Homo sapiens: one gene and its partners. The protein of the gene in region 1 purifies or fractionates together with the protein of each later gene. This does not show direct contact. Each region holds a gene or a part of one and is shown in the gene's direction. Other genes may lie near its edges.

The links.
Region 2: the proteins of CHORDC1 (region 1) and PGD fractionate together in Homo sapiens (co-fractionation; one large-scale study listed by BioGRID). This does not show direct contact.
Region 3: the proteins of CHORDC1 (region 1) and AGPS purify together in Homo sapiens (affinity purification with mass spectrometry; one large-scale study listed by BioGRID and IntAct). This does not show direct contact.
Region 4: the proteins of CHORDC1 (region 1) and REPS2 purify together in Homo sapiens (affinity purification with mass spectrometry; one large-scale study listed by BioGRID and IntAct). This does not show direct contact.
Region 5: the proteins of CHORDC1 (region 1) and SEPTIN11 purify together in Homo sapiens (affinity purification with mass spectrometry, with the first as the bait; one large-scale study listed by BioGRID). This does not show direct contact.
Region 6: the proteins of CHORDC1 (region 1) and PLPBP purify together in Homo sapiens (affinity purification with mass spectrometry; one large-scale study listed by BioGRID and IntAct). This does not show direct contact.
Region 7: the proteins of CHORDC1 (region 1) and PRCC purify together in Homo sapiens (affinity purification with mass spectrometry, with the first as the bait; one large-scale study listed by BioGRID). This does not show direct contact.

Annotation. Positions count from the first base shown.
Region 1 is NC_000011.10:90,212,562-90,217,092, reverse strand, and holds part of CHORDC1 (cysteine and histidine-rich domain-containing protein 1), read left to right. Parts: intron 1-1,862; coding exon 1,863-1,919; intron 1,920-2,917; coding exon 2,918-3,075; intron 3,076-3,672; exon of another isoform or gene 3,673-3,737; intron 3,738-4,531. UniProt on the Homo sapiens protein: Regulates centrosome duplication, probably by inhibiting the kinase activity of ROCK2. Proposed to act as co-chaperone for HSP90. May play a role in the regulation of NOD1 via a HSP90 chaperone complex. In vitro, has intrinsic chaperone activity.
Region 2 is NC_000001.11:10,401,372-10,405,902, forward strand, and holds part of PGD (6-phosphogluconate dehydrogenase, decarboxylating), read left to right. Parts: intron 1-1,699; coding exon 1,700-1,765; intron 1,766-2,789; coding exon 2,790-2,908; intron 2,909-4,531. UniProt on the Homo sapiens protein: Catalyzes the oxidative decarboxylation of 6-phosphogluconate to ribulose 5-phosphate and CO(2), with concomitant reduction of NADP to NADPH.
Region 3 is NC_000002.12:177,430,395-177,434,925, forward strand, and holds part of AGPS (alkyldihydroxyacetonephosphate synthase, peroxisomal precursor), read left to right. Parts: intron 1-3,932; coding exon 3,933-4,023; intron 4,024-4,531. UniProt on the Homo sapiens protein: Catalyzes the exchange of the acyl chain in acyl-dihydroxyacetonephosphate (acyl-DHAP) for a long chain fatty alcohol, yielding the first ether linked intermediate, i.e. alkyl-dihydroxyacetonephosphate (alkyl-DHAP), in the pathway of ether lipid biosynthesis.
Region 4 is NC_000023.11:17,019,152-17,023,682, forward strand, and holds part of REPS2 (ralBP1-associated Eps domain-containing protein 2), read left to right. Parts: intron 1-2,971; coding exon 2,972-3,120; intron 3,121-4,531. UniProt on the Homo sapiens protein: Involved in ligand-dependent receptor mediated endocytosis of the EGF and insulin receptors as part of the Ral signaling pathway. By controlling growth factor receptors endocytosis may regulate cell survival.
Region 5 is NC_000004.12:76,955,772-76,960,302, forward strand, and holds part of SEPTIN11 (septin-11), read left to right. Parts: intron 1-2,952; exon of another isoform or gene 2,953-3,469; intron 3,470-3,500; exon of another isoform or gene 3,501-4,531. UniProt on the Homo sapiens protein: Filament-forming cytoskeletal GTPase. May play a role in cytokinesis. May play a role in the cytoarchitecture of neurons, including dendritic arborization and dendritic spines, and in GABAergic synaptic connectivity.
Region 6 is NC_000008.11:37,768,562-37,773,092, forward strand, and holds part of PLPBP (pyridoxal phosphate homeostasis protein), read left to right. Parts: intron 1-4,193; coding exon 4,194-4,328; intron 4,329-4,531. UniProt on the Homo sapiens protein: Pyridoxal 5'-phosphate (PLP)-binding protein, which may be involved in intracellular homeostatic regulation of pyridoxal 5'-phosphate (PLP), the active form of vitamin B6.
Region 7 is NC_000001.11:156,795,035-156,798,534, forward strand, and holds part of PRCC (proline-rich protein PRCC), read left to right. Parts: intron 1-2,241; coding exon 2,242-2,307; intron 2,308-3,500. UniProt on the Homo sapiens protein: May regulate cell cycle progression through interaction with MAD2L2.

The DNA of each region.
Region 1 (4,531 bases):
CCTTATTCCTCCATACATTTTTTTAGTTTTTACAAATCTTTGTTGTGGTGGAAACTGTGGTGCTGTGGAAATGTTTATTTTTCTTTTTGTGGAATTTTATTTTTCCTAGACTGCCATTTCTTCTGATATTTTTGTTTTACTGTGTCTTTTTCTTTTTTTCCCTATGCTGTTTTCCTCTTAGCTCTTAAAGGTAACCTTTGGCTGTTTTCTCTCATTCAGTTCATTCATTGGTTTTCTCAAATGTCACCTCTACGCCGATGGCTCTTACAACATATTTCTATTTATGTGTCTCATTGGCAACATCAAACCAGTTTCTAGTGTGTACCGTTTATTCCAAAAGTAGTCTGCCTCTCAACTTTACTGCTCCTAGTAATGATACTACTGACTTTCTGATCATTTGGTCCATTGCCCGTTTTTTCTCTTACCGCATTGTTAATCACTCCAAGTCTTAATGAATTCACTTTGAAGTATTTTTGCTTCTCTCTCTTTTGCAGTTGTAGTGTTTATTGTGGTCTCTATTTTATAACCATTTCTTAAAGTCCTAGACTTTCCAAGATTATTGGATTTCACAGTCCAGAAGATTTCAGACAAAATGCGTATACATCAATACAGGGATACTAGTTGACCAAGTAAGAAGTTAAACATTGCATTGACAAAAGAAATACTATTTTAATATTAGAAGGGGCATATTCAGAGAAAAGGACAATCTTGCTGAAAAAAGACAACTAGCAACCTTATATTCACATAACTTAAATTTATCTTTCCTTTTCTCATTGTACTGAAGACTAGCATAGAATCCAGATTGGCATTTGGGAACAGCTGGCCTGTATTGTATTTTACATGTGTGTATCACAGTATCTGACATAATTTAGTACATGATTAAGACAGTAAAACTTTTTCTCTTATAGAATAACTTTTCTGTTGACTATATTATTGATGCTATTTAAACCCTATATTTAAGGTTGTAGTAATTGATCTACATCTCAATTCGGAGTAAAAGATAATTAAATTTCAAATTAAAGGAAAATTTGAATTATAGGATATTTGAAATTACCTTTAAAGAAAAAGAACCTACAGGTGCATATAATGAGAAAAATCACTACCATATTTTTATGCAGTCTTTTGAAAATCAGCGAGGTCCAGGCGGATGTGTGCAAAGTTGCATCTTAATCTGAATTTAGTCCCAAATCTTAATCTGAAGTTCCAAGTTTTGAGATTTTGCATTTTTGTTTCCCTATGCTCTATAAACATTGGAATTTAGAGATAATTATTAAAGCCATTTTTTGGTAAACTACTTGATAGTTTGTTCAAAAATCACAAATACTAATAGTTTCTCTGTCTTTATGCTTCTCACTGAAAAGATCACCTTCAAAGGCTTAATAGTGCTTTAGCTGCTGTGTTAATTAATCTTTGTTGTTCTGAAAATAGAATGCTTATTGTGAAATTAAAATTAACTAAAGATAGTTACTATCTTTAACTTAATAGATTTTAAAAGTAAAATACCTATACTTATTTTGAATATTCTTTAAATATGATAGTTTTAGGAATTATAACATGTTTTTCTTCTAAAAAAAAAGCAGACACGATTGTTGAAAAGAGAAACAGTTTTTGTTTTATAAAGGTGCTTCCCTTGATGATAGGGCATAGCACAAATCACTTTAACATTGGTTAATTGGCTTTTTAAAAATCAAAGATTAATATTCATTTTACTTGATTAGGTGAATTATATGCAACACTGAAATTTTGCACTCTATACGCAAGTTACTGCAGGATTCAAGTAGATAAGTGCAAGTAGAGTGTTTTAGTGGGTCGTGTTTCTCATGCAAATAGAGTTTTTAGTTTCCTTCTCTTGTTTTTCATAGGGTTGGTCTTGCTGTAAGAGAAGAACAACTGATTTTTCTGATTTCTTAAGCATTGTAGTAAGTACTAATTATTTTTTCTAGATTATCTTCCTAAAAATACATGTTATAGAAAGCTTCAGATTTGAGGAGTCTGATTTCTGATATAGATTGATTGGTCTTCATCAACTTGCAGATAACACCTTTCAAAAAGCAGCTCATCTCCCTTCCACAGCTTGTAAAATAAAGAATCTGTTTTGGAAATTAACGTTTTAAGGTATCAGTTACCTGCTTATCATTTTAGGTTTGTTCTTTCTGTTATGTTGAAAGAACATCAAGGAGAAAGTGGTAAGCAACAATTTAAAGCCTTTTCAGTTAGGAACGATAAAGTTTTATCTAAGATGCTGTTGAAATATTTTACATACCACTTTTATATAAAACCACTTTATATACCACTAAGAAAACTAAAGCTACTAACAAACTGATAATGCTATTGATTGTATCATTTCAGAGGTGTTAAAGAGTATGTATAATTCAGTAGAATGTAGTAGAAAAGTAGCTAACGTTTGTTGAATGTTATCACCTGCCAAATGTGCCAGGCATTTTATTATTTAACTCTCTCAGAAAATATCTTACCTGACATTACCTCCATTTTACAAATGAGGAGATGGAGGTTTAAAAAGATTATCTTGCTTAAGGTCATATAACTAATAAGTATGTTGAGAACTAGGTCTCAAATTGAGGCCTTTCGAGTAACAGATTTTTCTGTATAACTATTTTTTACAGTTCTTTGTGAGATTCTCCAGAATTCTTCTGTAAACAAGAGGTTTATGCCATATTTTTAATAGAATAAGTAGATGTTTATGAAGTGTAATTCAAAGACTTTTTAAAAAAGCCGTCATTCAGAGATTCAGCAAATATGGCAAATTTGGAGTTCTGTTTTTAATTTCTTAAAATCAATGTATTGAAACTGGAGAAAACATGAAATAGAATCACTATCAATAAAGAACTGAAAAGATAATATTTCTATCATGAAATGTAAAATAGATAGCTCTTAATGAATTATCTTTCACTAACAGGGCTGTACAAAAGGTAGACATAATAGTGAGAAGCCACCTGAGCCAGTCAAACCTGAAGTCAAGACTACTGAGAAGAAGGAGCTATGTGAATTAAAACCCAAATTTCAGGAACACATCATTCAAGCCCCTAAGCCAGTAGAAGCAATAAAAAGACCAAGGTATACTTTATACAGTTACATATTTTTGTCACACTTGAATAGTAGCACTTGTGCATGGTACTTTCCTTTATGATTTAGCATGATACCATTTGTAGCTACTATGTAGGCCACCAAGCTTTGAACCATTTGGTTTCTCCCTTAAATCTGCCTTAAATTTTTATTTCTCTTCAACTTGAGAGCATGTACACAATATAACTACATAACAGATTTGCATATTGTACTGTCATAATTACAGGGACATGTATCATCAGGGTAGGGAAGTCACATTTTTCTTGTGCCTTAGAGTGCATCTTTTTCACTGTGGCATGGTAAAATTCTTTGAAGCAGTTTTCCTTTTCATGGCATGAGTTTGAAGTAGAAAATAATGCAGAGGCCTAATCATCCATCTTTACTTTCAGATGCCTGAAAACTACCGTTAATCTCATTACTACTGGTCAATTTTTAATGCATTTGATTTAGATGACATATTTGTGAAAGTAGTCTTAAAAAAGCGTTTGCTCATTGTGCAATAGAGTTGTACAGATTCTTCATACTTGCCTTCTGATAACCAGACTCTGTATTCCCACACATGTATATTGAGTACCTTTGTTGAACCAGGTCTTCTTCGTGCTACACTTGAGTACTAAATTGTTTTAGAAGCAAACTACAGGACTTAAAAAAAGGTGATTTTTTTTTTTTTTTTTGGCTGCAAGTAGGCACTTATTGTAATTTTTATTCATGCTATGAACTCATGATTTTCCCTTTATTCTCCTTTGATCCTACTTAAATAAATTTATAGAGTATTGAATAATATAGAACCAAGATAAGAACCCTAAGAGACTTTAGATGTTTATTTGTTCATTAGCACTCTGAGTACAGATTATTGCTAAGGAAACTACTCAGGATGATTTTATTCTCTCTCCATCTTCATAGTTAGAGGAGACCATTGAATGCTTTGGCCAGTTTAGCAGTTAGAAAAATAATTGGGAAAAGACAAAACTTCAGTCATGGCTCATTCTTAATCTCTTTAGTAATATAATACAGTCTGTACTATAATAGTATGAGTTAATTTTTTCTTTAAATGATGGGCTGTTATTTTACTTAAAGGGCAGTGAGAGGCCAGGCACTGTGGCTCAAGCCCATAATCCAGCACTTTGAGAAGCCTAGGAGGGAGGATCCTTTGAGCCTAGGAGTTTGAGAACCAATCTGAAAGAGATCCTGTCTCTCCAAAAAAAATAAATTAGCTGGGTTTGGTGGTGTGCTCATGTAGTTGCAGCTACTCAGGCTGAGGCAGGAGGATCTTGAGATTGACTTTTTGAAAAAAAAGGACAAAGGCAGTGAGATGAGAAAAACTAAATATTTTATCCTAAATTCATTTGGTGGTATTATAACAATTATGAGGATATCAGTTTTTACATACTTTTCTTTTTTTTAAGAAGAAAAGTCCCTCTCTTACCCAGGCTGTAATGCAGTGGCA
Region 2 (4,531 bases), on another chromosome or scaffold:
CAACTCTGAAAAAACCCAGGCACTCCCATTTAGAAGAAATGTTTTGCTGTAAGCAGTGCAGTGATAGCTCAGGGGAGGCTGAGCATTCCTTTCTAGAGGAGTCGTGTCAACAGTGGGGTTGTTTCCACAGGGAGAAGGATTTGTAACCAGTATGCCACTGTTTTTCAATCAAATGACCTAGAAAGGAAGAACACTGAGTTTAAAAAAAGGACATACTAAATTTTTTGTGTGGCAAGCTGCCTGTAATCAGTTTCAGACAGAGAAAACTGAAAAATGGTGGATTATTCTTCAGTATAGGAAAATACTAAGTAATGTTAACTGGAGCCTTGTAGGGGGAAGATTGAATAATATAATGAAGCCCAGGCTGGGCGCGGTGGCTCACGCCTGTAATCCCAGCACTTTGGGAGGCAGAGGTGGGTGGATCATGAGGTCAGGAGATCGAGACCATCCTAGCTAACACGGTGAAACCCCATCTCTACTAAAAATACAAAAAATTAGCCAGGCGTGGTGGTGGGTGCCTGTAGTCCCAGCTACTTGGGAGGCTGAGGCAGGAGAGTGGCGTGAACCCGGGAGGCAGAGCTTGCAGTGAGCCGAGATCACACCACTGCATTGCAGCCTGGGTGACAGTGCGAGACTCCGTCTCAAATAAATAAATAAATTAATTAATTAATTAATAAAGTAATAATAATAATAAAGCCCAGCCTGGTTGGTGTGCTGTAGGTAGATATTCATGTTCAAGGCTCTGTCTCTTCCTGACCTCCGAACTGTTGTCATAAAATCATTCATTCATACACTAAACCATTTGATATGTATTTACTGAATCCCCACTCTCTTCTAGACACATTATAGTCAGTGTTTAATCTGTATACTTACTTAAAAATAGAAATGGGGTCTTGCTATGCTGTCCATGCTGGTCTCAAATTCCTGGGCTCAAGCGATCCTCCTGCCTCAACCTCCCAAAGTGTTGGGATTACAGGTGTGAGCCACTGAGCCTGGTCAGCCCTAAACTTTTAAATAGTGTGCAGCTCTGGCCACAGAGAGGATTATTGAAGATTAAGTAGGCTGGGTGCGTTGGCCTCCTGCCAAGCCAGGAGGCTTTTAGCCCAGGAGTTTGAGACCAGCCTGGGCGACATGGTGAGACTCCATCTCAAAAAAAATTTTTTTTTTTTGAGACGGGGTCTCACTCTGTCCCCCAGGCTGGAGTGCAGTGTTGCGATCTCAGCTCACTGCAAGCTCCACCTCCCGGGTTCACGCCATTCTCCTGCCTCAGCCTCCCGAGTAGCTGGGACTACAAGGCGCCTGCCACAACGCCCGGCTAATTTTTCGTATTTTTAGTAGAGACGAGGTTTCACCATGTTAGCCAGGATGGTCTTGATCTCCTGACCTTATGATCCACCCACCTCGGCCTCCCAAAGTGCTGGGATAACAGGCGTGAGCCACCGCGCCTGGCCTACAAAAAAAATTTTAAAACTAGCTGGGCATTGTGGTTCAAGGAGTTCAAAGTTGCAGTGAGTCATGTTCACACCACTGCAGGAGTTCAGGGTTTCAGTGAGCCATGTTCGCACTCCTGCATTCCAAGCTGGGCAACAGAACGAGACTCTTTTTAGACTATGTTTATTTGGAATAAATTCTTGTTTGTTTTAATTTGCCAAGGTATGTTTCATTTTTGGTCCATCTTAATGCTGGTGTCTGGTTACAGGTACCATTGTTGGATACTGGTGACATCATCATTGACGGAGGAAATTCTGAATATAGGGACACCACAGTAAGTGTTCTTCAGTCCAGATTCTTCCAGGTTCCGAGAACATTCTAGAAAAAAGTGTCAGCATCGCATATGTGACAGTAGGGTGAACTGCCCTGTGGTACTGATTTTTTTGAGATTACTACTGATACAATAGTTCTCAGCCTTTTTTTCTGTTAAGACACACTTAACAGAAGGGCCGGGTGTGGTGGCTCACACCTGTAATCCCAGCACTTTGGGAGACGGAGGCAGGTGGACCAAGAGGTCAAGAGATCAAGACCATCCTGGCTAACATGGCGAAAACCCGTCTCTACTAAAAATACAAAAAATTAGCCTGGCATGGTGGCATGCGCCTGTAGTCCCAGCTACTTGGGAGGCTGAGGCAGGAGAATTGTTTGAACCTGGGAGGCAGAAGTTGCAGTGAGCCGAGATCATGCCACTGCACTCCAGCCTGGGCGACAGAGTGAAACTCCATCTGAAAAAAAAAAAAAAAAAAAAGACACTTGGTGGGTGAGATTCTCAGTCACACATACAACTCAAAGGATGACTAACTCAGATACAGCAGGCTGAGAATTACGTTTTAACTCCTCCCCTTCCCCTTCCAAGTAATCCATGATATGTCAGTCTATAACTGGTTTAGAACCACTCCTCTAATGGTATCAAATGCTGAGGGAATTCCTGTGTGCTCTGAAGTGCTGAATGGCATTAAGTTGTATTACACCTACTCTTCGTTGAGTCTTATTCAAGGTCTTTTCCAGTAAAATGCCAATGTGTGTTTGGCTTAATTATTTTACTTTGGGGATGAGGTAGGTATCGTGAATGTCCATAGTTGTATTGTTTTGTTTTTTAACTCCTACACATAGGGGATTAACTTTCCTGAGTCATCAGTTATTCCTAGATCCTTGGGTCATTTCCTGTAAATGTAGGCTCTCCATTCCTATCTTATACTTCCTCTCATTTATAAGGGAAACATTTTTGGGTAGCATAATGAAACATGGAAGCATAATGAAACATGGAAGCATAATGAAATTATTTTTCTGTCCTTCAGAGACGGTGCCGAGACCTCAAGGCCAAGGGAATTTTATTTGTGGGGAGCGGAGTCAGTGGTGGAGAGGAAGGGGCCCGGTATGGCCCATCGCTCATGCCAGGAGGGAACAAAGAAGCGTGGTGAGTGCCATCAGCACTGTGCCCATCTCTGTACAAGGGAGCTGGACTTTGAGAACGAATAAGCCAGGAGCAGTTCTGCCACCCTGATCTCTGTGGTGCCCTGAGTGTGACAGCTGGGAGATGCTGGCAATTTCTTTTATCTAGACATTTTGTTGCTTTGATATAGTATATGTGCACAATCCTCTTTTGCCTTTTTTCTTCTGTTATTTCTATCAAGACTGATACCTGACGTTCTAAATAGGCTTTTTTTTTTTTTCCCGCCCAGGCAGGAGTGCAGTGGTGAGATCTTAGCTCACTGCACCCCCCGTCTCCTGGGCTCAAGCAATTCTTGTGCGTCAGCCTCCTGAGTAGCTGGGACTACAGGCACATGCCACCATGCCTGGCTAATTTTTTGCCTTTTAGTAGAGACAGGGTTTCACCATGTTACCTTGGGTGGTCTCGAACTCCTGACCTTAGGCGATCTGCCCGCCTTGGCCTCCCAAAGTGCAGGGATTACAGGCATGAACCACCACACTTGGCCTCTAAATAGGCTTTAAGGAAGCAGTTTAGGTAATGTTCTGTGCAATGTCTGGATGTAGGAATAAGGTCTGCCTCTTTTAGCTGATATATAACCCAAAAGTAACTTAATGTGATAATCGTGGGTAACAGGCTGGGCATAGTGGCCCATGCCTGTAATCACTGCCCAGCACTTTGGGAAGCTGCGGTGAATGATCATTTGAGCCCAGGAGTTGAAGACTAGCCTGGACAACATAGCGAGATCCTGTTTCTACAAAAAAGTAAAACAAACATTTTTTTAATTAAAAAATATAAATTGGCCGGGCGTGGTGGCTCACGCCTGTAATCCCAGCACTTCGGGAGGCTGAGGCAGGCAGATCACCAGGTCAGGAGATCTAGACGATCCTGGCCAACATGGTAAATTCCTGTCTCTACTAAAAATACAAAAATTAGCCGGGCATGGTGGCGTGCGCCTGTAGTCCCAGCTACTTGGGAGGCTGAGACAGGAGAATTGCTTGAACCTAGGAGGCAGAGGTTAGTGAGCCGAGATCGCGCCACTGCACTTCACCCTGGCGACAGAGTGAGAGTTTGTTTCAAAAACAAAACAAAACAAAACAAACAAAAAATACACACACACACACACACACACACATATATATAAATAATTGTGGGCAATCCGATATATATATAAATAATTGTGGGCAATCCGCTTGCCCTGGCCTCCCAAAGTACTGGGATTACAGGCGTGAGCCACCGTGCCTGGTCTGAAATATGATTCTTTAAGGCTGGGCATGGTGGCTCACGCCTGTAATCCCAGCACTTTGGGAGACTGAGATGGGAGGATCACTTGAGGTCAGGAGTTCAAGACCAGCCTGGCCAACATGGTGAAACTCTCTACTAATAATACAAAAATTAGCCGGGCATGGTGGAGGGCACCTCTAATCCCAGCTACATGGGAGGCTGAGGCACAAGAATCACTTGAACCTGGGAGGCAGAGGTTGCAATGAGCCGAGATCTCACCACTGCACTCCATCATGGGTGACAGAGCGAGACTCGGTCTCAGTAAAAAAGAAAAAATGATTCTTTTTTTGAGACGGAGTCTTGCTCTGTTGCCCAGGTTGGAGTGCA
Region 3 (4,531 bases), on another chromosome or scaffold:
GGAGTCTGTAAAACTCCTGGGTTACTGTGCGAGCCTGAGTGACTGTTCTTTTGAGACACGGCTCTGTGTATTGAACCCAAGGCCCTGGTGGTGTGGGGTCATGAGGGGATCTCCTGATCCACAGGTTACAAATATGGAGTGGGAGAAGTGTGGTTTCCCTGGTGGGGTTGCACAATCTCTCACTGCTCTGCTTGGCTGGGGGTGGGGGTTCTTTTGGCTCCATGCTTCTCCCACTTGGATCATCACCCCACCCTCCTTTTCTTTGTTCTCCATGGGTCCAGCTGTCTGCCTAGTCAGTCCTGATGTGAGAACGTGGATATTTTAGTTGAAGGTGCTGAATTCAGTTGCTATTTTCATTCTTCTCCATGACAGCTGCGGATCACAGCTGCTTCTAATCAGCCATCTCAGTCCCTATAGATTTCTATAAACTAAAATTTTTGAAAAATGTCACTATTTTTGACTTTATGGGTATTATACATTAGTTTGGTACTTAGAAATCACAAGTTAGTATATAAATGAAAAATTTGAGTTTGTTAGACTTTGTCTTTTTGATGGCATAATTTTTAATTGAAGCTTTATCTGATTATAAAAAGGCTGTTAAATTGCTTAGCAATTGTGGAACTCACCCTGAGGCTAGATGATTGTATATACTTATCAGGGGAACCCACCCCCAGTATTTCAACATAGGTTCTATTTTCCCTAAGTGTCGGCTGGTCTGAGAAATAAACAGAAAGAGTACAAAGAGAGGAATTTTACAGCTGGGCCGCCGGGGGTGATACCACATTATCGGTAGGTCCATAATGCCCCCTGAGCTACAAAACCAGCAAGTTTTTATTAGGGATTTCAAAAGGGGAGGGGGTGTACAAACAGGGAGTAGGTCACAAAGATCACATGCTTCAAAGGGCAATAAAGATCACAAGGCAAAGGGCAAAGTAAAGATCACAAGGCAAAGGGCAAAATTAGAATGACTGATGAGGGTCTGTGTTCGGCTGTGCACGTATTGTCTTGATAAACATCTTAAACAACAGAAAACAGGGTTCGAGAGCAGAGAACCGGTCTGACCTCAAATTTACCAGAGCGGGATCTTTTCCCCACCCTAATAAGCCAGAGGGTAATGCAGGAGAACAGGGCGTAATTTCAGTCCTTATCTCAACTGCATGAGACAGACACTTCCAGAGCAGCTGTTTATAGACGTCCCCCCAGGAATGCATTCCCTCCCCAGGGTATTAATTATTAATATTCCTTGCTGGGAAAATAATTCAGCGATATCTCTCCTGCTTTCACGTCCTTTTATAGGCTCTCTGCAAGAAGAAAAATATGGCTCTATTGTGCCTGACCCCGCAGGCAGTCAGACCTTTGGTTGTGTTCCCTTGTTCCTTAAAATTGCTGTTATTCTGTTCGTTTTCAAGGTGCTCTGATTTCATATTGTTCAAACACACATGTTTTACAGTCAATTTGTACAATAGTGGTCCTGAGGTGACCTACATTCTCAGCTTATGAAGATAACAGGATTAAGAGATTAAAGGCAGGCATAAGAAATTATAAGAGTATTAATTTTGGGAACTGATAAATGACCATGAAATCTTCACAATTTGTGTTCCTCTGCCATGGCTCCAGCCGGTCCCTCTGTTCGGGGTCCCTGACTTCCCACAACATATACTAATATTTTTGCTGCTTCTTATGTGCTGCCCCAGAGTGAGAGTCACTTTGCTTTTAGTCATTGTCAGTCCTGATGTGCACTTCCCTCTTGGATAATTTTTGTCCACAGAATTTTTTCTTTCCATGTAGAATGATTTCATTGGCCTTGAAAACTTGTTCTGGTTCTGTATCTTCTATAATATAGTCTATTTCAGCCCTATGGGAAAGTGATAAATTGATCTCACCTTATATTTTACAACAAAAGCCATTTAATATTCTCAAACTAATCTTCAGTCATGGAAAAGAAGAAGATCCATTCAGTAGTCACTGTGATTCAACAATTGGTATAAGTGCTTAACTTTCCCTTTATCACATCTCTGGTTAAAGTTTCATGTTCTCTGCCCATGTGTTCATCTCACAAATTAAATGTTGCTGTAGCTTTGACTAAGCTAGGTTGCAAGTTTCTTAAAAACAGGAGTCATAATACCAATTCCATGTATTCTGCAATGCTAAGTACAGTCTTCTGAGTGTTAAATAAATATTGTGCATTCAGATATAGAGATATAAAGACTTTATTTTAGTGATAGAAGGTAGTTTTAAATTTTATACATGATAGTAACACTAACTCTGTATCTGTAGTTTCAAGTATCTTGAAGGTGGTCACCTTTTTATTTTATGGGAATACCTGAGACTGGGTAATTAATAAAGAATAGAGGTTTATTTGGCTCATGGTTCTGTAGGCTGTGCAAGAAACATGGCATCAGGGTCTGCTTCTGGTGAGGACCTCAAGCTGCTTCCAGTCCTGCAGAAGGGGAAGGGGAGCTGGTATGTGCTGAGATCACATGGTGAAACTGAAAGCAAGAGAGAGATGGTAGGGAGGTGCCAGGCTCTTTTTAAACAACCAGCTCTTGAGGGAACTAACAACTCACTCACACTTCTCTCCCTTCCCCCAGGGCATTAATCTATTCATAAAGATATACGTCCATGACCCAACCACCTCCCACTAGGGGATCAAATTTCAACATGAGGTCTGGAGGGTTTGGTGTCCAAACTACAGGACTCCTTTAAGAGAGTGAAAGGATAAATCACAGAGTAAGAGAAAATGTCTAATATGTGTATCTTTCATTTTATAAATATATAAAGATTTCTTACATGTAATTGAGAAAACAATAACCCAGGAGGAAAATGAGCAAAAGACTTGAACTGGCTTTCAAAATGGAGGATATCCAAATGGACAATAGTTATAGGAATAGATGCTCAATTTCATAAGTACTCAGTAAAATTCAAATTAAAATTGTAATGAGATGCCAATGGAATGTCTCAGATTCAATTATAGAATTTCTGTTGTGTTCTTTTTTATAGTTTTTTATTTCTCTGCTAAGATTTTTTTTCTAATATTCACCAGGAGTACATTTTCCATTTTGTCCATTGGCGTAGCAACAATAGCTGCTTTAAAACCCTTGTGTGCTACTTCCAGTATCTTGGGTCATTTTGGGGTCAGTCATCATTAATTGTCCTTTTTCTTGAATATGAGTCATACTTTCCAGTTTGTTCTTGTCTAGTAATATTGGAGTGTGTTTTGGACATTGTACATGATATGATGTAGGAGCTGTGGATTCTGTTATATTCCTCTGAAGAGACCTTTAAAAGACTTTTTTTTTCTTAAATCAAGCAATTAACTTGACTGATCTGAAACTCTAAATTCTGTCTCCCTGTGGTGAGCAGCTGAATTGCCTGTCCAGTTTTTTTTTAAGCTTAACTGGGCTGCCTAGAAGATTCCAGTATGTATTCTATACATGCTATTCAGAGTCAGCCAGACATTTGGAGAGAGCTGATAGATTGGTTCCTCTCTTACTTGCTTCTTTCTGTGATTTCTCGGTATGCTTTCCAGATGCAGCATTCACCCCAAACACTGTGCTCTGGTTCTTTAAGCCAGGAAGACTGTAAATTTTCAGCATTTTTATTACCTTTTGAGGCACCAGCTGGGGCCTGCCATAAGGCTAAAACTTATGGAAAAAACAAAACCAAACTGGAAACTTATGAACTTATGTAGTATTTTTTCCTTTTTTCAAGTGTAGCACACCCTTCTCCCCTATTTTTGACTGCTTTTGGTCTGTCTATACTGCCTTTAGATAGCTGGGTTTTGTTTGTTTTGTTTTCGTTCAGAGTTTATAGTTACATGTGAAAGTGTTGGTTTGATAGTAGCTGCTTGACCATCACTGGAAGCAGAATTTAAGCTTTAAATTTAAATGAAGATACTTTGCTCTAATATTTTTACTTTCTTTGTACCTTAGGTACCCTCTTAGTGGCATGGGTTTACCAACATTTAAAGAATGGATCCAAAATACCCTTGGAGTAAATGTGGAGCATAAAACTACCTCTAAAGTAAGCAAACAAAAATTATTACTAACTCATTTAACTGTGTTTTTAAAACCCAAATTAATTTGATTTATCTTTGTAATTCATTATATTGGATTTACTGCAACTGTCATGTTTTTTGTTATAAAGCCTATTAATTATATTGGCCTTGTTAGACTGTTAGCGGCAGTTATTCATTGTCACAGATATAGACCTTAGTCTCAGAATTTATTTGAGATTTATCTGGCAAACTTTTTATCCTCTCTGAGCCTTGGTTATTTTTAGAATTGGGAGTAATAACTATTTGTTCTGCCTATCACAGGGTAGTAGTGAAGTGCAGATTATTTACTTCCTTAAAGAGTGCTTTGTTACAGAAATATAAGTTGCTATCATGTTTAGATTATTTAATAGACTGACTGTAATCTAGGATTAATAGAGAATAATTTAAAATAAAAATGTAAAATCACATTTAGTATTAGGATATTTAGAATATTTGAAGAATTATAAAAAGTAAAAATTTGATTAAGATATGAGT
Region 4 (4,531 bases), on another chromosome or scaffold:
CAAAGGATTTTTCTCTCTTGTAGAGGGTCAAGTGTTTAAAAAGGAGCAGGCATAATTTTCTTTGTGGAAGGGAAAAATAGTCATTTATGTTTAATATACAAAGCATTTCTGTGTTCAAAGAATGTAACCTAAGATGAAACAACAATGAAGCAAATTGTCATCTTGGATGGCCACTCTCATTGTCTCCTCAGACCCTCTAAACATTTAGTGTGAACTCTTACTTTGTTTGCTGTGTGTAATTCAATTCAGTTTGGGAGACAAGATTCTAACCAATGACTACAAATAGACCTTCTTCTTGACAGACATCATTGTATAGCAGGTACTTTATTGATTAATTTTTTCAAAGTTTCACTATTAAATTTTGTGTATGTGTGACTAGGAAAAACATTCAGTTGAGTATGGTGACTCATGCCTGTAATCCCAGCACTTTAGGAGGCCAAGACGGGAGGATCGCTTGAGCTCAGGAATTTGAGACCTGTCTGGGCAATATAGCAAGACCCCATCTTTACGAAAAATAAAAAAAGAAATTAGCCAGCATGGTGGCAAGCACCTGGAGTCCCAGCTACTTGGGAGGCTGAGGCAGGAGGATCAGTTGAGTCTGGGAGTTCAAGGCTGCAATGAGCTATGTTAGTGCCACTGCACTTCAGTCTGAGAGACAGACCTTGTCTCAAAAAAACAAAAACCAAAAAAAACATTCAGACTGAAAATTTACAAACTACTTTTACCTTTCACTTTTTAAAAGCTTGCATCAGTTTAAGGGAAATGGCACCTTCATGAAAGTTTTCCATGATAAGAATATTATTATGTATGGTTATACTTCTGTTAAGTGAGAGTTGCTTGGAACCACCTGACCAAAGAAAGTATGAGAGAACTTCAGCTGTATTTTGTCTTTTGCTGTTTGGTGGCTGTCTGGGGGAGAGAGGTGGTTTTCTAGGCACATAGCTCTAAAGAAATGCCATAGACAGGGTGGAAGAATGTGTGAAGTGACAATGTCCTAGACAATATCTGGGAGCCCTACTTAAGTCCTAATATAATAATTGATATTCATAATTCAGTTAGTGTATTCCATTGTTCCTTGGAGGTATCTGTTGAATGCCAGTAAGGCACTGGTCAGGGAGCTTATAAATACTGAGCATTTATTTCTTTTCTCCCTCAAGAAGTACTTGGAAGTAGAGTCATCCTCTTATGGGTAGATCAGGGTGCAAATTATTTTATGTGATCTTGTTTCATCTTTTTAGATCCTTTTTCCTGACTGAGCTGGAGCACATACCTGAGACCAAAACCATAGAGTTAGCTTATATTTGATTTACTAAGAATCTAGAGTTTCTTTTCTCTTGCTTTTTTGCTTTTGAAGCCCATTCCTGCTTTGAGTGCTGGAGAGCTGCCCGAGATTGGGAAACATTAAGATTGGTTACTCTATTTATGTCTCTTGGGCCCTTGGCTGATTGATCACACAGGGATTTGTCATATTGCCTGCTTCTTTTTTTTTTTTCTGGTACAGAATTTTGCTCTTGTTGCCCAGGCTGGAGTGCAATGGCATGATCTTGGCTCACTGCAACCTCCGCCTCCTGGGTTTAAGCAATTCTCCTGCCTCAGCCTCCTGAGTAGCTGGGATTACAGGCGCCTGACGCCACGCCTGGCTAATTTTTGGTATTTTTGTGTAGAGACGGGGTTTTACCATGTTGGCCAGGTTAGTTTCGAACTCCTGACCTCAGGAGGTCCACCCGCCTCCGCCTCCCAAAGTGCTGGAATTATAGGCGTAAGTGAGCCACTGCGCCCGGCCGCCTGCTGCTTTGAATCAAATGTGAACATAGCAACTAAAAGTAAACATCATGTGGATGTTAGAGAACCAGGGGCCTTCTTTGCCTGGGGAACTCTAGGATACTTGCTTGCTGTTGCTAAGATGTTTTCTGGCCTTAGCACAGCATCAGTCATTGAAAGTGCAGCTGTGTTTTTGGAATAGAGAGCTGATGGAAGTGCAAAGGCACACTGATGAGTATTATCCTGAACAATGGATACAGATGCAAATCATTATGCATAATCCATAATGTCCCCATTTTTGTAGGGTTTTGTGCTACGTGATTGTGTGTGATTTGATGTGCTGAGAACTAGAAGTGTGCCAAAGTATCATTTCCGCTTTCAGAATAGTTTTGTTAGAATTTTGAAAGATGAGTAAATATACCAGACCGTTGCTTTTCAACTCTTTGTAGCATTTTGAGTGGCTAATGGTTTTGACAGAAGAATGTGGCTGAATGATAGATTGATTGCTCTGACTTGATATTGTTTTCCTTATTCCATTATGAAAAGACAACCAGAGATTGGATGTGAAAATTCCTTAAAGAATTACATAGGATGAGAAACTGTTCTACCCACTAAGTTTGCCATAGGAACAAGGGACCATTCTGTAGAGCACTGGTAAAGTACCAGCTTGCCTGCATTCAAACCGTGGCTCTGCCACAGATGAGTTGTGTGATCCTGGGGACATTACTTAGCTCCTTTATGACTGTTTCTACTTTTGCAATGAGGGGGTGGTAATGATAGTTTTATCATACAGAGTTGTTGTGAGGATTAAATGAGTTAATATTTGCAAATCTTTAATACTGTGCCTGGCATATTTAAGCATTATATGAATTTTACCTGCCACCATTTGTCACTTATTATTGTATTATACAGTGTCATATCCTTTTTCTTGGTTATTGAAGGATGAAATGGGAGATCAGTCCCAAATCTGAATTTATTCTGCGATTTGGCAACATTGAAAAATGTTAAGCCAGAATACTTTGGTTAAACCATAGCATTTTAAAAATCAGGACGTTATTATAGGAGTACTCATTGTATCTAAATCTAAATTTATATTTAGTGCTCTGGAATTTTTCCTCAAAAATGATTCATCGTTTGGCCATTGAGTTCCCCTTTTTTGCAGTTTTTAAATTAAGTCTGACTAGAGCTTCTCTGATTTCTGGTCCCAAAGAATTGCCTCTGCCTCGCTTTATGATGTCAAAGAATGATGGTGAGATACGATTTGGGAACCCAGCTGAGCTGCATGGAACTAAGGTTCAGATTCCATATTTAACTACAGAAAAAAATTCCTTCAAAAGAATGGACGATGAGGATAAACAGGTAAACAGTTTGTTCAGATGTGTTCATTTGATTCTGACCATGAAACCGCATGTAGCAGGGCCTCGTATCTACTGTTCAGCTTCCAGCAAATCTCACCATCTGGAACCCAATTACAGACTTGGAAGTGAGCCAGTAAAGTTTTCTCCTAGCAAGAAAGAGAGACCGACACATATGAATCACCACCACCCACTTAAGGGCCCTTTAGAGCCTACTTTAAAGTAGAATTGTGTCTAAAATAAGGCTACCGATTTAATACATTTATTGATTTCACTAGCTCAGTGGTTTTCTAAATGGATTCTTGGAAATGTAACTTCCAGGAGTTTTTAATAGGTTCTCTTCTCCAAAAAGAAGTCTGTAGAAAAGGTTTCTCCTATTATAATAAATGTGTTTGGAGAATGCTGCTTCATATTCCCTTGTTGAGGGAAGGACTAAATCCTCAGTCTTGGAAATTCGTAGTGCACATTAGCACGGTAAAAGCCCTGAGAAGTTCTGCAGTGAAGAGACCTGGAAATGTGTGTTTACTAAACTTCTTTCACCAGGAAATTCTTTCTTGGGGAACATATTTGGAATACTATCTTGGGAAATGCTGCCATTACCCATTTAGCAGGTTTGGAACCAGAACAGGGAGGATAGGCTTTTAAAATTAGACCACTAATTGCAATGGTCAGATGATGATTGGTGGAGACAACAGTATAAAATCTCAGAAGAGTGGGCAGATCCAGAAGAAGTAAATAGTCTACACATTGGTGTACCCTGCAGGCATCAAGGTATAGCTCATACTTCCAGCAAAGATACTGAATCATGCAGAGAAGTCAAATTATGTTCAACATAGTGTCTTCTATAAGGTAAAGAAATTTATTATAGGAACACTTGAGGCTGGGCACGGTGGCTCACGCCTGTAATCCCAGCACTTTGGGAGGCCAAGGCGGGTGGATCACAAGAGGTCAGGAGTTCAAGAGCAGCCTGGCCAACATGGCAAAACCCTGTCTCTACTAGAAATACAAAAATTAGCCGGGCGTGGTGGCATGTGCCTGTAGTCCCAGCTACTTGGAAGGCTGAGGCAGGAGAATGGCTTGAATCCGGGAGGCGGAGATTGCAGTGAGCCGAGATCACATCACTGCACTCCAGCCTGGGCCACAGAGCAAGACTGTGTCTCAAAAAAAAAAAAAAAGGAACACTCGAATGAAAATGTTTTTAAAATGCAATGAATATTAAATGATTATGTTGGAAAACTAACTTCTGTGACTTACCCTGTGATGTTGTGTAGATGAGGTGTTGCTACAGAAGTTTTATATGGATAGTTAGGGGAGGTGTAGCACATCCTGTTAAACAATTCCATGTACTGTCACTTTCATAATTCTGACACATTTTAAATCAGTTCTTCAGGGATATATTTAAAAAGGAAGAGGTA
Region 5 (4,531 bases), on another chromosome or scaffold:
AGAGAAGGAGAGTCCAGTGACAACATATGACAACGACAATGCTAGATCTTCCTCTGCCCAGTTTTATGCATTGAGCCTTTCCTCAGGATTCAGAACTAGAAGTTATTATTTTCTTAGACCTAAGCAACTGAGTCCTGAAGAGTGTGGTGGGGCTGGGGGGGAAGATGGTAGGACTCTTTCCACCTTGGACTTCAAGTGGCAATCAGTGTTCTCCAAAAAGGAAATTAAAAACTCATTGGATTTTATGAAAACAGGAGAAGAGTCTGTTAAAAGCCAGGGTTTACTTAAGACTTCATGCTGTTTTAGTTATCTCATCTCTTTGAGTACTGTCTTCATACCAGTATAAATTTTGTGAATCTCATTAAGGTACTCATTAAACTTACTCTGACCTGCTGTTGGAGGGCAAAAGGCTTGACCAAAAACTTCTGTGCACGGGAAGCTTGTTCAGCATCTTGATTTTCAAATTTATTCAATTCAAATTACTGTCAAGACAATTATCTCACCTTATACTCACAAAATACCTGAGAAGTAATATAGAGAAGGAAAATGAGACAGGAAGAAGTTGTCAGTTAATCTGCTACAGCAAATTTGTGGGAGAGCTAGGCTTTGGAACCAAAGGCTTTTAGACCAACATGCATACAGACCTCCCATCTGATTCAGTCAGTTAAGCTAAATTATGTTGCGGTAACAAATTGGCCCCATGTTTTGGTGGCTTACATAGCAAGGGTTTATTTCTCATGCAGCTGTTCCACCCTCGGAGGTCTGCTGCATACTGCATTGCCTCCAGGACCCAGGCTGAGGGAGTATCCTCTATCTGGGCATTGCCAGCCTGGTGGCAGAGGACAAAGAGACATGCTGAACCCTGGCTTCTCAAGAGCTGGCTTCTCAAGCTCTTAGATGGGTCACTTCCATGCAGATTGTATTGGCCAAAGTAAATGGTCATTCCTAAATTCAAAAGAATGAGGATAGAGAATCCTCCTGTAAAGAGTGGCTCTGAAAGACCCTTGGGCTGGGGAAGTAAATCCCCCTCTAGGGAGGGCAGTGAATATTTTGAATAACAGTTGGCTAGATTCCTAGTCAAGGAATCTACTATGAAGCCAAGTCTTTATTTTTAAAATTGTATCCCTGTCTGTAAGGATTTTTCTCCCTCTATTTGGCCTGCTCTGATTCTAGCTGGGCATAGTAGAATGATGTGTGTGTGTGTGTGTGTGTGTGTGTGTGTGAGAGAGAGAGAGACAGAGACAGAGACAGAGAGAGATAAGAGTTAGGCAGCCACAATGAATTGAAGTCAGAGTGAATTCTCCTACTCACTGGTGATGAGCTTCCAGGGACATCACCATCAAGTAAGTCATGGGTGGTAACCTTCTGAAAGGCCTTCTGTGCTGCTCTCTGATGACCTCAGCTGTGGAAGTGTACTCTCTGGGAAATGGTTCTGAGGCCATTAGGACTTCCAGCTGCTTGACAGAATGATTTCCCTTGGGACCTCGGCCCTTTGGACCTTTCCCAGCCATATGTCCCTAAATGCAGATGAATCAGATGGCACCCTTCTTTCCCTTGCTCTGTTTTTCTCTCTACTGAGAGGCCATAGTGTATAGCGTTTGGGTGAAAAATGTGGGCTCTGGAGCCAGGTTGCTCCGGTTCTAGAGTATCGGTTTTACCATTTAACAAGCTTTGTGTCCTTAGGCAAGTTACTTCCCTCATCTGTAAAACACTAACAGTACTTCCCTCAAAGAGTTACAGATTAAGCCAGTTAGTACACACACAGTGCTTACACTGCTGCCTGGAACATTCATCCTCAATAAAAGTTGGTTATCTGAGGAAAATGGTGCTGAAATAGTAATGGCTTTATACTGAAGACTGGGCTCAAACCAGAACTGCCACTCCACTCCACCCCACCCCAGTGGGAACTGAGCAATTGCCCCTTCTCTTGCACACCTGAACCACACAGGCTTCCCATTTTCTAATCATAGCACACCTTAGAGGCACGGATCAAGCATACCCTCCATGAAGCCTCCACCCATGAATCACCAAAATTTTGGCGATTTTTATTTATTTGAATTGCTGGCAACACTTATGTGTCATCCACATAGTGCTCTGGAGTCCCCACCCCACCTTTCCTTAAGTTACCTTTTTTAAAAAAAGTGACTGTCAAATATAATTGTGAACATAAAAACACAAAACAAAAAAACCTTATTACCTACCATAAGCAATATGTTCCACTAGCCCTTGACCACATTCTTGCATTCTTAGTCTAGATAGCCAGACTTAAGGGAAAGGACTATATGTCCTATACCCCCCACCAATAAACATTTGACTCAATAAGTGAAAATTCACCCTTCAGATAAATTGGATAAGACGTATTGTCTAAGACGTGTGCCTACCTGGCTGTTGCTGTGTCAACCCCCGGTAGGTGTAGACCTCGCAAGTCCACTTTCTGCCCCAGGCTTCTCTGCCATCGCCACCTGGGTTCTGCTTAGCTATTCTGACCTTTGTGCACTTCTGGACATCCAAAGGAGTTGCCATCCCAGGGGGCAACCCCCTTGAGATGGTGGATCTACATGGCTCCTCAATTGACCTGGCTCCTTAGAAGTTCCCCTCTGGGCCCCAGCCTCAGCCCTCAGGGGTGATTACTCTACAGTCCCCTTAGGGTGGCCTTCCCTCTTCCCCTGTTTCACTTTTCCCTGTCCCCCATTCTGTTCCCCTGGGTCACTTCCCAGGACTCACATGCATGCAAGTCCCTGTCTCAAGTCCTTGCATTTTGGGGAAACCTAGATGAAAACGCCTTGTTTACTAGTGTGGGGCTCGTCTTTTCCTTATACAAATAAGGGAGTATGAATGTTAATTTTGTAATATACTAAGCTACTTTGGATGTTTTAAAAAATACTCAGAACAAACTGACTTTTTACCAGGTTTTCACTACTATTTGTAAGACGCGGTTTTTGTTGTTGTTGTTGTTAGAATTAATGTTTTATTGTCACCCAGATGGCAATTAGGTTTATAATCTTCATACTTTATGTTTTTTGTAAATTAAAAAAAAATAAGTTTTAAATAGTCAATGGCTGGTTATATTTTCAGAAAACATGATTAGACTAATTCATTATGGTGGCTTCAAGCTTTTCCTTATTGGCCCCAGAAAATTCACCCACCTTTTGTCCCTTCTTAAAAAACTGGAATGTTGGCATGCATTTGACTTCATACTCTAAAGCAACATCCTGACAGTCATCCACATCTACTTCAAGGAATACCATGTTGGAATACTTTTCAGAGAGGGAATGAAAGAAAGACTTGATCATTTTGCAAGGCCCACACCATGTGGCTGAGAAGTCAACTACAAGTTTATTGCCTGCGGTGTCCAAGGCTTCCTGAAAAGCAACCTTGCTCTTGATCGTTTTACCATTCTTGGCTGCTGGGGTCTGATGAGCAACTGTAACGACCGATGGAAACGGATCCAAAGCACTGGACTGAGCTTGGACAAGACAAGGTTTTTTTTTTTTTTTAAAAATAATAATAATTATTATTTTTAATGGATACAGAGTCTTGCTATGTTGCTCAGGTTTGTCTCAAACCCCTGGCCTCAAGTGATCCTCCTGTCTAGGCCTCCCAAAATGCTGAGGTTACAGTTATGAGCCACGGGCACATGGCCAGATTAAAAAAGTAGACTCAAAAAAAAAAATTTGTATCGCATCACCTAGACTTTTCTATAATTTTCATTTCTGATTCTTTGGGATGGAACTCATAATCTCTCAGGGTGGCACTACTTGCTTTTGAATCTATAGTGCCTATTTTGTTCTGTAATGGGTTTAATTTACCCATTTCAAGTCAATTGCATTTTTATATTCTAGGATCTAGATCCAGAGTGAATGGGGGAAATTATGGTTTTGATACATGAACTATGAACTTAGGACAAAGCTTAAAACTCTTTTGAAAAAAAATAATCAAAGTTTTGGGCTTATATTGTCTGCATAAATTGGAAAAATGGGGTAATAAGAAACAACTTTAATTAGCTAACATTGAACAGTTTTAAGGATGGGGATTAATGTAGTATTTCCCTAAGAGTGTTTATTTTATTTTATTTTGAATTTTTTATTTTTGTGGGTACATAGTAGGTATATATATTTATGGGTTACATTAGGTATTTTGATGCAGGCATGCAATGTGTAATAATCACATCAGGGTAAATGGGGTGTCCATCACCTCAAGCATTTATCCTTTGTGTTTCCAACAATCTAATTGTACTCTTTTAGTTATTTTTAAATGTACCCCAAGAGTTTTTAAGAGAATTGTTCAAATGATCACTGCACTTCGTGTAAGCCATTCTCAGAGGCAGTTTCTGAGAATGTCATGGAAACTACGTAAACCAAGCTGATTCATTTTTAGATTCTCCTCACGTTTGTCACCTTTGCTCTCATTCTTTGAGGTGTTTGGTTTGACTTACGTGGGTAGGCAGTCTAAGACTAGTACTTTGGCCTGATAATTTGATTGTTTGTCACATGCCTCTTTGTTTTCAAAGCCTTTTCCAATCCTTAGTCAA
Region 6 (4,531 bases), on another chromosome or scaffold:
TCCCAGGTTCAAGCAATTCTTCTGCCTCAGCCTCCCGAGTAGCTGGGACTACAGGCGCCCACCACCACGCCCAGCTAATGTTTTTGTATTTTTAGTAGAGATGCGGTTTCACCATCTTGGCTAGGCTGGTCTCAAACTCCAGACCTCATGATCCGCCTGCCTTGGCCTCCCAAAGTGCTGGGATTACAGGCGTGAGCCACCACGCCCGGCGGTTTTGATTTTCATTAATAACGAATGATGTTGAGCATCTCTTCATGGGCTTATTGGCCATTTTTATGTCTTCTTTGGAAAAATGTCTAGTCAGTCCTCTGCATGTTTTTTAAATTGAGTTGTCTTTTCATTATTGAGTTGTAAATTCCAGCTAGATTAAATAATCTAACTTGAAAATAAAAGCTATAAAAGTATTAGAATAAAATGCAGGAAAATATTTTTATTTTCTTGGGCTTTTCTAAGCAAGACATAAAATCTGGAAACCATAAAAAAAACAACTAGGCCAGGCACAGTGGCTCACACCTGTAAATCTAGCACTTTGGGAGGCCAAGGCAGGTGGATCACTTGAGCCCAAGAGTTTAAGACCAGCCTGGGTAACATGGCAAAACCCTGTCTCCACTAAAAATACAAAAAATTAGCTGGGCGTAGTGGTGTGTGTCTGTGGTCCCAGCTACCTGGGAGGCTGAGGTAGGACGATCACCTGAGTCCAAAAGGTTAAGCCTGCAGTGAGCTGTGATTGTGCCACTGCACTCCAGCCTGGATGACAGAGGAGACCCTATCTAATAATAATAATAATATTAATAATAATAAATTTTAAAAGAACAACTAGCAGATTTGATCACACAAAAATTAAAGCTTTCTGCATGTCAAAGCAAAAGGGAGGCACAGAGTGGAAGAAAAATAATATTTTTGAAGAGGGAAGAGATTCATATCCAGAATACATAAAGAGCTACAAATCTTTTTGTTTATAGGGAAAAAAAATAGGCAAAAACTGGGGCAATTTATAAGGGGTAAAAATACAAAAGGCCAGTAATCAAATGAAAAATATTCATCCTCAGAGAAATACAAAATCACTAATCAGATTTGTAAAAAATCAAAAAGACTGCTAAGATCCAGTGTTTTGAGGGAGTGAGTAAATGAGTACTCCTTCGTCTTACCAGGAGATTCTAAAACCGTAGAGTCTTGGAAAAACATAAAGATTCCACCAAAAAACTATTATAACTGAAAAACAACTTCAGTAACATTGCAGGATACAAAATAAATATACAAAAATCAGTAGCATTTCTATATGCCAACAGTGAATGATCTGGAAAAGAAATCAGGAAAGTAATCCCATTTACAATAGCTACAAATGAAATACCTAAGAATAAACTTCACCAAAGAAGTGAAAGATTTCTGCAATGAAAACTGTAAAACACTGATGCAAGAATTTGAAGAGGACATGAAAAAATGGAAAGATATTCCATGCTCATGAATTGGAAAAATCAGTATTGTCAAAATGTCCTTATTGCCCAAAGCAATCTACAGATCCAGTGCAGTCCCTATCAGAATACTAGTGACATTCTTCACAGAAATAGAAAAACACAGTCCTGAAATTTATATGGAACCACAAAAGACCCATAATAGCCAAAGCCATCCTGAGCAAAAAACAAAGCTGGAGGAATCACATTACCTGACTTCAAATTATACTGTAGAGCTATAGTAACCAAAACTAGCATAAAAACAGACACATAGACCAATGGAACAGAATAGAGAACTCAGAAATAAATTTGTACATCTACAGAGAATTTATTTTTAACAGAGGTGCCAAGAACATACATTGGGAAAAGGACAATCTCTTCAATAAGTGCTGCTGGGAAAACTAGATATCCATATGCAGAAGAATAAAACTAGACTCCTATCTCTCACCATGTACAAAAATCAAATCAAAATAGATTAAAGACTTAAATCTAAATCCAAGACCTGAAACTACTAAAAGAAAACATTGGGGAAACTCTCCAAGACATTAGTCTGGACAAATTTTGTTTGTTTGTTTGTTTGTTTTGAGACAGGGTCTCACTCTGCACCCAGACTGGAATGCAGTGGCATGATCTCGGCTCACTGCAACCTCCATCTCCTGGGTTCAAGCGATTCTCCTGCCTCAGCCTCCCAAGTAGCTGGGATTACAGGCACGCCCCACCATGCTGGCTAATTTTTGTATTTTTGGTAAAGACGGGGTTTCACCATGTTGGCCAGGCTGGTCTCCAATTCCTGACCTCAGGTGATCCGCCCACCTCAGCCTCCCAAGGTGCTGGGATCGCAGGTGTGAGCCACTGCACCTAGCCATGTTAGAAATATGTAAAGGTGATGGGAGGAGGGAGCGGGGAAGGAGCCAGCAGGCATAGAAGGGGCAGGAAAACCTAACAGAACTGTTGTTTTAGTGCCATTTTCCCTTCTGGATGATCCGTTATACTCATTCAACCTCACAGCTCAATTCATTTCCATAAAGGCTTCTTGAGGCCAGATGCAGTGACTCACACCAGTAATCCCAACACTTTGGGAGGCCAAGGTGGGAGGATCACTTGAAGCCAAATACATATATGTATATTTCTTTCTTTTTTAGTCTTTCTAGTCTTGCTCTGTCACCCAGGCTGGAGTGCAGTGGCGTGATCCCGGCTCACTGCAACCTCTGCCTCCCAGATTGAAGGAATTCTCCTACCTCAGCCTCCCGAGTAGCTGGGATTACAGGCATGTGCCACCAGGCCTGGCTAATTTTTTTTGTATTTTTAATAGAGACAGGGTTTCACCATGTTGGCCAAATGGATCTCAAACTCCTGGCCTCAAGTGATTCGACCACCTCGGCCTCCCCAAGTGCTGGGATTACAGGCGTGAGCCACAATGCCTAGCCATCTCTGGCTAATTTTTTTATTTTTTGGTAGAGACAGGGTTTCACTGTGTTGGACAGGCTGGTCTTGAACTCCTGGCCTCAAGTGATCTGCCCTCCTCAGCCTCCCAAAGTGTGGGGATTACAGGTGTGAGCCACTGCACCTGACCTTGACAAAGATTGCTTGAGTAAATACTCCAAAAGCACAGGCAACCAAAGCAAAAATGGACAAATGGGATCACATCAAGTTAAAAAGCTCTTGCAGGCTGGGCACAGTGGCTCACGCCTGTAATCCCAGCACTTTGGGAGGCCAAGGCCAGCAGATCACGAGGTAAGGAGTTCAAGAACAGCCTGGCCAACATGGCAAAACCCCATCTCTACCAACAATACAAAAATTAGTGAGGTGTAGTGGTGGGTGCCTGTAATCTCAGCTACTTGGGAGGCTGAGGCAGAAGAATAGCTTGAACCCAGGAGGCAGAGGTTGCAGTGAGCCAAGATTGTGCCACTGCACTCTAGCCTGGGCGACAGAGCGAGACTCTGTCTCCAAAAGAAAACAAGCTCTTGCAGAGCAAAGGAAACAACAAAGTGAAGAGACAACTCAGAATGGGAGAAAATATTTGCAAACTGCCCATCTGAAATACTTGTACATAGCACCAAGTTCTATATCCAAGCTTTGTTTTTGTAATAAAAAATAAGAAACAATCTAATATCCATTAACGAGGAATAGTTATGTAAACTGTGATAATCTGTCCTGTGGATTGCTGCAGTTTTTTAGTAGAGATGGGGTTTCACCATGTTGGCCAGGCTGGTGTCAAACTCCTGACCTCAGGTGATCCACCCACCTGGTATTACACGTGTGAGCCACCACACCTGGCCAGTGTTAGGGTCATGGTGATGTCCTTGTTGGATAAGAATACCCTCATCCCAGAAAGTTGAAGAATTGTGGTGATATGCTAGGGAAGCATCTTGGCTTCCACTGGTCATCCTTTCTTCATTGTCATCCTGACCTGTTTCTCTCAGTTTGAACTGAGACATAGATCAAGCCTTTTACTAGGAATCTGTCCGTTACCAGCTTCTTGAAGCTTATGGATGTATATGCTGCCTGATCATGTATGTCAGCTTTTCCCTTATTTACCTTTGCTGATTAGCCAGGGATGGTCTGACATTTGAATTTGTATCTAGTAAAACTGTCACATTTGTCTTCTCAGAGGAACTGAGATTTAACTGTGTTTTTCTTTTCCTGGCATATTTTTTCCTCTAACAAGTCAGAGATTTGTTGCATGTTACTTGCTGCAATAGAGCAAATAAGGAATACTACTTTGCCTCTGTCTCATTACAGCTGTCCCCAATCTCTTCATGCTGGAAACAGTGGATTCTGTGAAGTTGGCAGACAAAGTGAACAGTTCCTGGCAGAGAAAAGGTTCTCCTGAAAGGTTAAAGGTTATGGTCCAGATTAACACCAGCGGAGAAGAGAGTAAGTAACCAGACCTGAATTGTAGATTTTTCTTCCTTTAGGATGGTTGAAGCTTAGGGAGAATGGGTGGGCCCAAGTGTCTGATGGATAAGGTTATAGAAACAAATCACAGGATCACAGGCCTCTAAGTTGGCTGTTTTATGTGTGATCTAGGTAGCATAATGGCATGCAAAGCAGTCTATGTATCATTCTTTACTACATCA
Region 7 (3,500 bases), on another chromosome or scaffold:
GCTGAGATCGAGTAGTTGGTGAGGCCTCCCAGCCTGTGGTTGTGGCTTCTTCTCAGGCTGCACAGAATCCACAGCTGCTCTACTCTTGCCGTACAGTCAGATCCTTCTTTCCTTTTTTTGATTTAAAGTTTTTTGCTTTTTTTGTTTTAATTTTTATTCTTTTAAAATACTATCTTCTTCCTTTCCTTCCCTCCCTCCCTCCTTTCCTCCTTTCCTCCTTCCTTCCTTCCAATTGTTTTCATTTTCTGGTGTTTTTTTTTTTTTTTTTTTTTTTTCAGAGTCTCACTCTGTTGCCCAGGCTGGCATGCACTGGCTCAGTCACAGCTTATTGCAACCTCTGCCTCCCAGGCTCAAGTGATCCTCACACCTCAGTTGCTGGGACTACAGGTGCATGCCACCATACCAATCTAATTTTTGTATTTTTTTGTAGAGTTGGAGTTTCACTATATTGTCCGGGCTGGTCTCGAACTCCTGGCCTCGAGTGATCCACCTACCCTGGCCTTGGCCTGCCAAAGTGCTGGGATTACAGGCATGAGCCACTATACCCGGCCCCGGTTAGTTCATTGTTTCAAGCTGGGACCTGGCTCAGCACATTTTTGAGGTGTGGGCACAACAGCACCTCAGAAATCCTGGAGTCCCTAGATTCTGAGCATGCAACTCTTCTGTGTTCTCTTCATTATTGATGGTAGCCAGCTGTAGTCTTTCCAGTGCTTTTATTCATCACATTTCCCACACCACACTCCTGCCTTCTCTGTCCTAGTTTTCTTCAGTCAGTATGATGAACATTTCTTCACCTAGTAGCTGAGAACAGCAAATGTGGACATTTATGAGCCTGCCACCGGAGGGGAAATGTGGGAAAACCCTGGACTTGAGCCCAGCACCAGCGAGACCAAGGTCGAGGATTTTGTTCCCTTTTCCTCCCCCCATTTGCTTTGCTTTGTTCTATGGCCACAGATGGCCACACAAGCCCCAGCCGTTTGTTTTAACTGAATGCTGGCGGTCATACAGGACAGAGCAAAGGACTGTGGTTAGATCAGCATAGATCCATCACTGTTTACTGGAAAAACCACTTAGGAGAGCATGCTCTACCAACTGTGGGTCGAGAAGCATAGTCACATAGTAATAGCTACTGTTGTTAATGCTCACCGTGGGCCAGGAATGGAGCTGGATGTTTTATGTGTGTCATCTTTAACTGTCACATTAAATGACATTAAATAGCAGCAAGCAATTAGTATTTGCTATTTTCCTATCTCCAAGTTTTCTTGCCACCGTCTCATTATATTGAACTAGATTTTGTTAAAAGGAGAAAAAGATATGGTCCTTGTCCTTGAGGAGTTGACAGCATAGTTGGGAAGAAGAGATTTAAGGACACTTGAGTGTAAATGATTACAGTACAGATTGATGACATAAGTGCTGAGGAGACTCTAGAGAGGAGTTTTGGGAGTTGGGTGGAGATGATTAGGAAGCTTCTAGTCTGAGACAACTCTGGCAGAGGACAGAAAAACCGCAGAATGAAAGCCCAGACCAATATAGACTTTGACAGTAAATCATTTGCATCGAAGTTTGGTTACGGGTTCAGTGCAGTTACGGGCGGAGGCTGGAAGACTGGGGAGAGGTAGAGTGATTGTGAAATTTCTAATTCCAGGGAAGCTGCTGGCACTTACTAGAATGGGGAAGGCAGGGGTTTTAGCCAGAGGTGATTGATGGGAGCGAGCTTGATAAGCAGTAGGTGGGAGACAGGCTAGACATCTGGCTTGACTGGGGAGAGGGGGACAGAGATGAAGAGAGTTTGAAGGGAGATGGGCACAGGGATTGTGGGAGGGCCTGGCAGGGGGGCAGAAGGTCACCTGTGCCCTGGCCCACAAACTGTTTCAGACTGACTGCACGCAGTTAAACTGGTCTCAGATGTCCACAGCAGACAGAACCCCATGCTGGGTGCTAGGGGTGGGGTGGGATTACCAAAGACGCAGAAGACAGTCCTGACCTCAAAGCATTTCCAGTCTAGTGGGGGATATTAGCAGGCTATTTCAGGCAAGTGTTCTGAGCTGGGTTTTTTGTATAATGGCTTTAATAAAAATAAAGGCTTTGTAGTATATAGAGGTAAAAACAGCTCCAACTTTTCTCCCCCAGGATTTGGGCTGTGGAATTGGCTTCTCAGCCCCTAACACCACACCATCTGGGCACATGAGAAACTTCTGCTTTCATCCTGTGGATTAATGAATATGTTTTCTTCTCTTGCAGAAGAAAGGTGAGCAGCCAACAGGCCAGCAGCGGCGGAAACACCAGATCACATATCTTATTCATCAGGTGAGAGACAGCTGAGGGCTCTGGCTCAGGCAGGATCTCTGTAAATCTGGGAATTTGAAGGCTGAGATACGAGTTAGAAGCCCAGATGCTTATCTTTTAGCAGCCCATCTTTTAGCAGGCATCCTCTCCTATTCTCAGAGCGGCCACTAGGAGGGGATACATCCTTCAGAATTATCCTGCTCTACTTCAGTCTCAATGCAGATAAGATTCAGGTGCAGGTGCTTAGAATAAAACTCTTAAGTGAAAATCCAGATATCCAAAACATAATGTAAGAGGAGAGTGAAATGGTTTATCATAGGGTTCTTTTAAATAGCAGGTTTCTCTAGTAATTTAAAAAACTTAAAAAAAAAGTTGATTCACCAACTTAGCCAAACATCCACCTGATGAAGAGGTTGGTTTTATATTCTTCACTTCTGTGGCAGGGAACATCAACACAAATAATTCAGAATTACAGGTAATCCAAAAATGTCTTTTGAAACTGGAATATGTCTTGGTATTTATTTAATATGACTGGGCAGCTTTCAAATACAGTTGACCCTTGACCAACACAGAGGGTTAGGGATGCCAGCACCCTAAACAGTCAAAAATCTGCGTATAACATTTTTTTTTTCCCTTTTTGGAGACAGGGGTCTTACTCTGTCACCCAGGCTGGAGTGCAGTGGTACAATCATGGCTTACTGCAGCTGCCGTCTCCTGGGCTCAAATGATCCTCCTACCTCAGTCTCCTAAGTAGCTGGGACCACAGGTGTGTGCCATCACACCCAGCTAATTTAACAATTTTTTTGTAGAGATAGGATCTTCCTGTGTAGCCCAGGCTATGTGTATAATTTTCGATTCCCCTAACAGCTAACTACTAATTGCCTACTGTTGACCAGAATCCTTACCGATAACACATATTTTGTATTTTGCAAAATGTGCTGGGTTGTCACACCTGCTGGCATAGCTGCAGCGATAGCAACAACTTCACAAATTTCCTTTTTTTTGAGACAGAGTCTCGCTCTGTTGCCAGGCTGGAGTGCAGTGGCACAATTCCTTTTCTTTTTTCACAGTGGTCCTTATGCTAGATTCATTTATCTTGAAGTGGCAGGCAACTGCAGCTGCAGACCCCAGTCTACGGAACGTACCAAACAAGTCAGCTTTTTCTTGTAATGTCATGACTTTTCTCTGCTGCTTGGGAGCACTTCAGCATGACT